2 separate regions of the Homo sapiens genome follow, and region 2 is linked to region 1. Evidence: fine-mapped expression QTL. A gene starts in region 1. The other region holds a variant in brackets. All regions are shown on one strand. Distances are from middle to middle.

Evidence for each region.
Region 2: its variant is fine-mapped to the expression of ANKRD26 in Th1/17 cells (Schmiedel 2018, PIP 0.95).

Annotation. Positions count from the first base shown.
Region 1 is chr10:27,099,140-27,102,055 of GRCh38, forward strand. ANKRD26 (ankyrin repeat domain containing 26) reads right to left here and starts at 1,355. Exons shown (of 34, transcript NM_014915.3): 1 at 946-1,355. The coding sequence starts at 1,187. RefSeq lists an enhancer at 792-851 and a silencer at 1,022-1,201.
Region 2 is chr10:27,386,054-27,388,969 of GRCh38, forward strand. No RefSeq gene overlaps it. Among named protein-coding and RNA genes, the nearest start is that of PTCHD3, 27 kb to the right of the region's middle. The variant A/AT (reference allele first, on the strand shown) is at 1,671.

The DNA.
Region 1 (2,916 bases):
ACCACCATGCCTAGCTAATTTTTGTATTTTTAGTAGAGACGGGGTTTCACCATGTTGGCCAAGCTGGTCTCGAACTTCTGACCTCAGGATATCCGCTTGCCTTGGTCTCCTAAAATGCTGGGTTTACAGGCGCGAGCCACCACGCCTGGCCTCTACTGCCACTTTCAATGGTCACATATTATCATGCACTGACATTTATTCACAAAATCCATTCTATGGGTTCTCCTTAATACACTGCTTAAGCAATGCTGAGAAAAACAAATTACTTGTATATCTATTTCCTAAAGGCATTTTATTTCTTTTTCTTTTTGAAAGATAGGGTCTTGCTCTGTTGTCACTGACATACCTCACTGCAGCCTAGAACTCCTGGGCTCAAGTGATGCTCCTGCCTCAGCCTTCCAAGTAGCTGAGACTATTAGAGTTGGGGGGGGGGGTCTCGCTATAATGCCCAGGCTGGCCTTGAACTCCTGGCCTCAAGCAATCCTCCCGCCTCAGCCTCCCGAAGTGCTGTGATTACAGGCGCGAGCCACCGCGCCTGACGAATAACAGATTTTATAGAAATAATTTTTAACCCAGAAGTTGCTATATTATGGAAACTGCTTATCTCATTATGCACCTTTCCATAAGTGTATGACATTGTATCTTAAATGTGTACATTAAAAATAAAACGCTGTACGTGCTTTTGTTCGTTAATTCACTTTAAAATTGTCACTTAAGTGCTCTCTAAGGGATTTCGGGGGGATCGGAAACCAGCTAGAGTTCTGTTTTTGTTTTTCTGCTCAGAAAGGCGGCCTGGGCGCTGGAGCCCTGCAAGGTGTCACCGTCCCAGGGGCTACGGAGCCCGCGGGAGGCTGATCCAGGCCCTGGGTGGCTCCCACAAAAGGGGCCCCTCTTCCTGCCCGCCTACTCCAGTGGCACTCAGTCCGGGCTTGCGACGCCTATTACCTGTTCATCTTGTCTCTATCGTTCAAGCCATTCTTCCTGAGCAAAAGGATCTGCTGCACTTTCGCCACATTACCCGCGCTGGCAGCTTTGTGGATCTTGCCGAGATCTCGGTCTCGGACGTGGTAGCCGGGCTGCGAGTAGGCGCCCTCCCCCGGCTCGCCCCCGCCTCCCGCGCTGCTCCTCTGCCGCCGCGCGAAGGAGCCCAAGGGCGACTCGCCCTTCTTACTAAAAATCTTCTTCATGGCCCAGGCGACCGGGCTTCAGAGACACCTCATGTCTCTCTCGGCTCTTAACGGCCTCCGGAGCCCAACATAACAAGTCAGCCCCGGCTGGCCGCAGCCTCCCAAAGGAAACTCCGCGGTTTCCAATCTCTCCCTCCGGGTTACCAAGCAAGCGATCCCGCTAGACACAAGTGCGCATGCGCACCTCAGATGGCAAGGTCCACGCGCGTGCGCACGAAGGCCCAGTGGTCAAGTGTGCTCCATGCGCATGTGCAAGGCCCAGACCTCGCAAATCTCGGCGACTGGGACGAGCCCTGCGTTCCTGTCAAACAAATGTCGGTGGGAGTCTGGCTGAGTGTTCAGGACGTTTGCGAAAAGAAGCCTCGCGCCTGTGGGGAAGCAGCCTTTACGCATGACTGGGACTGGAGTAGCGTGGAGTTTTAAGATGCTGAAAGCCTCTTCTCCGAGAAAACTCCCCTAAGAAACTCTCTGAATCTCCCTATCTCTCAGTTTATTCCCCTTCCATGTCCCTTTGGGTGCCATCTGGTCTCCATGAGAACTTAACAGATGCAACAACAGAGGGCACAGGATTTCGGAGATCGTGGCATATGTGTCAAGTGCAGAGGGCACAGGATTTCGGAGATCGTGGCAATATGTGTCAAGTGCAAACTTACGAGGAGAAACCAATGCACATTCTCCAGAAGAAATGAGAACGCATTTCTGCATGCCTCCTTCCCCCACCCCTCTGCCTTTGGCCCAGCCTTATGTTTTATTTTTTGCTTTTGATTTTCCAAGGTTACATCTCTTTCTTCTTTTTTTTTTTTTTTTCCCCAACAGAGTCTCGCTTTGTCGCCCAGACTGTAGTGCAGTGGTGCAATCACGGCTCACTGCAGTCTCCACCTCCTGGGCTCAACGATACTCCCACCTCAGCCTCCTGAGTGAGTAGCTGAGACTACAGACGCAAGCCACCACGCCCGGCTATTTTTGCATTTTTTGTAGAGACAGGGTCTCACCATGTTGCCCAGGCTGGTCTCCGACTCCAGGGCTCAAATGATGCTCCCATCTCAGCCTCCCAAAGTGCTGGGATTACAGGTGTGAACCACCACGCCCAGCCTAGATTGAATAATTTGACAACAAATTGGAATTAGCAACGCAGACGTCAAGTGGAGTCTCAGCAGAAATTGCTGCTGGAATGCACCTCCATAGCTCTGGACAGCTCTAGGGTCCCTTGTGGAGGAGGTGGCTGGCCCCAGAACAGGCGTCTTTATTGCCAAGTGAGAAATGAGCAAAAACAAAACAACACTTCTCAGGCCTCTCCAGCTTAGCTAGATCAAATGGTTTTGATGTGGGAGAGTGGTTTCCACTATCGTCACCAAGAATTTTCCTCCTACACTACCCCAGCTAGAAAGTTATGTTGTCTCCTCAACACTCCCCAAGGTGATCTATGAAGCTAGTCAAGTCCCAGCACTTTAGGAGGCCGAGGTGGGTGGATTACCTGAGGTCAGGAGTTCGAGACCAGGCCAACGTGGTGAAACCCCGTCTCTACTAAAAATACAAAAATTAGCTGGGTGTGGTGGTGCATGCCTGTAGTCCCAGCTACTCGGGAGGCTGAGGCAGGAGAAACACTTGAACCTGGGAGGCAGAGGTTCACACCACTGCCTCTGGAGTGGAGACTCTTGGATGGAGACCACGACTCTCTCTCAAAAAACAAAAACAAAAACAAACAAAAAATACTCAAGTGTGGAGAACA
Region 2 (2,916 bases), 290 kb after region 1:
AGTGTGTCAAACAATGATTTTGAGGCACCGGACAAGAGACAGTGAAGAATTATGATCCCTGAAAGACAGAAAACAAATGAAGTGAGTCCTATAATCATCCTCATTTTCTTCATGGAGACATTTTCCAAACCACAGAATATGAAGGTAAATCCAGGCAGAGCATGGCATTTTCTTTATAGGGCAGAGTTTAGGGGCTCTGGGCAGGCTAAAATATGTAAGTCAAAGTGCCAGAGTAGAAGGTACCATGGGGATAAAGCACTTCCTAAATCTGCACGGGGCCCCTTTTAGCATGTCTCTAAATACCTTGTCACCTCTGTGTAAGATAAATGTCCATGAAGTCAGGCTTTGCAAAGCTTGACCAGAGAATCTATTACTAAATACTTAGCCACATATGGCACATGCAGAGGATGAAGTTCTATGAGACAAGGCAAAGCATAACCAGAGAGGTATACCCTAAATCTCCAGCATTCTCACAGAGCTGGGAGATGTTTAACTTTTGATCAGGCAGAATGTAGATTCCTCATTGAAAACCTGGGAGATTCAGTAGAAACCCCAGAGGGTTGTGCCTAGTAGTAGGGCAAAGCTAGCCTAGAACTAAAGACTGTTCTAGATTCATCCTAAGAAGTCCTAAAAATGAGCTTTGAAAAGACCAACCTGATACACAGATAACTTTGTCAGATCCAATAGTATTTAGAGAAAGCAACAAAATCTAGTACTCAACGACATATATTCCATAAGGAGCATCCAATAAAAACGTACCAGACATGTGAAGAAGGAAAATGTGACCATAACTGGGATAAAATTAATCCATACAAACTCACAGCCAGCCTCTATGATGGTCCCTAATTTTTATCACCTCCTGGTATTCATTACTTTGTTTCTTTGCACATTGAATTAGAACTGGTCTGTGTGACCAGTGGAGTAGCAGATATGATTCCGTGTGGCATCCTAAGCTAGAGCATAAAGGACATTTTGGCTTCCATTCTCTTGGATCACTTGGTCCAGGGGAATCCGGCAGCTGTCAGGAACAGCCCTGTGATGGGGCCCATATGGAGAGGAACTGGGGTCTCCCACAAATAGCCAGCACAACTTGACAGTCATATGAGTTAGCCATCTTGAAAATGGATCTGATTCCAGCCCCAGTCAAACCTTCATATGTGTGCATTCTCAGCTGACATCTGACTAAATCTCATGAGAAACTTCAAGATAGTAAAAACCCATTAAGGCTGGGCACGGTGGCTCACGTCTGTAATCCCAGCACTTTGGGAGGCCGAGGTGGTGGATCACTTGAGGTCAGGAGTTCAAGACCAGCCTGGCCAACATGGTGAAACCCCGTCTCTACTAAAAATACAAAAATTAGCTGGGCATGATGGTGTGTGTGTCTGTAATCCCGGCTGTTTGGGAGGCCGAGGCAGGCTGATCACCTGAGGTCAGGAGTTTGAGACCAGTCTGGCCAACGTGGTGAAACTCTGTCTCTACTGAAAATACAAAAATTAGCCAGGCATGGTGGGGCGTGCCTGTAATCCCAGCTACTCGGGAGACTGAGAGGCTGAGGCAGGAGAATCGCTTGAACCCAGGAGGCGGAGTTTGCAGTAGTGAGCCGAGATTGCGCCACTGCACTCCAGCCTGGGCGACAGAATGTCATTCCATTTCAAAAAAAAAAAAAAAAA[A/AT]CTGGACATATTTGGAGGGTATTATTGTATTATTCTGCCTCCCAAAGCTGTTAAAATAATTAAGTGAAAAAACTGATGAAGTATTTTGTAATGGTTGGACCAGGCTGACAATACCTAAACACATTAGTGAATTTTACCATCTTAAACAGAGAGCCAGTCGTTAAGCACCTCCTAACATAATGGATTGAAAGCCCACAATGCCACCTTGCAAAAACAAACAGCAAACAAAACGAAGCACATCTCTGATCAAACCTGTCTTACCCATGTCAAGGGGTCAGAGGAATGTGCTAAAACATAATGCCATCAACAAAAGCCAAAATGTAGGATTCTAACTCTCCAGGACAAATGACCTGGTTTCTTTAAGAAATAAACTACAAGAGGGAGAAATAAAAAGAGGAGGGAGAATTTGTAGACTAAGAGTCTTAAGAGACACATTAACTATGGACTTTGTTTTGATTCTTATCAAACAAAGGTATTTAAAATATATGACTTGAGAAATTTTTAAAATATACTTTATATTTTGTTTAGGGCAATTTTAGGTTCATGGTGAAGTTGAGCAGAAAGTACAGTGAGTTCCCATATAGCCCCTGCCCCCTGACCTTCCCACTTGCAGGCTCTCACACTAGCAACCTACCACACTAGAGTGGTACTTTTGTTACAGAAGATGAATTTACATTAACACATTATTATCACCTGAATCCTATAGTTTACATTAGGGTTTACTCTTGGTGTTGTACATTCTATGGGTTTTGACAAATGCAAAATGACTTGTATCTACCATTACAATATTGTACAGAACAGTTTCACTGTCCTGAAACTCCTCTGTGCTCGGCCTATTTATCCCTCCCTCTCCCAAACCCCTGGCAACAATTGATCTTTTCACTGTCTCCAAAGTTTTGCCTTTTCCAGAATGTCCTACGGTAGGAATCATACAATATGTAGGCTTTTCAGATTGGCTTCTTTCACTTAAGATATATTTAAAGTTCCTTCATGTCTTTCATGGCTTGAGAGCTTGTTTCTTTTTAGCATGGAATAATATAACACTGATGTACCACGGTTTACCCATTTGCCTGTTGAAGGATGTCTTGGTTGCTTCCAAGTTCTTGAAATTATGAATAAAGCTGCTATGAACATCTGTGTGCAGGTTTTTGTGTGGACATAAGTTTTCAGCACATCTGGCCAAATACCAAGGAATGAGATTGCACAAGGATCTTGTGCAACAAGAGAGGCCAGAGCTGGAATTGGA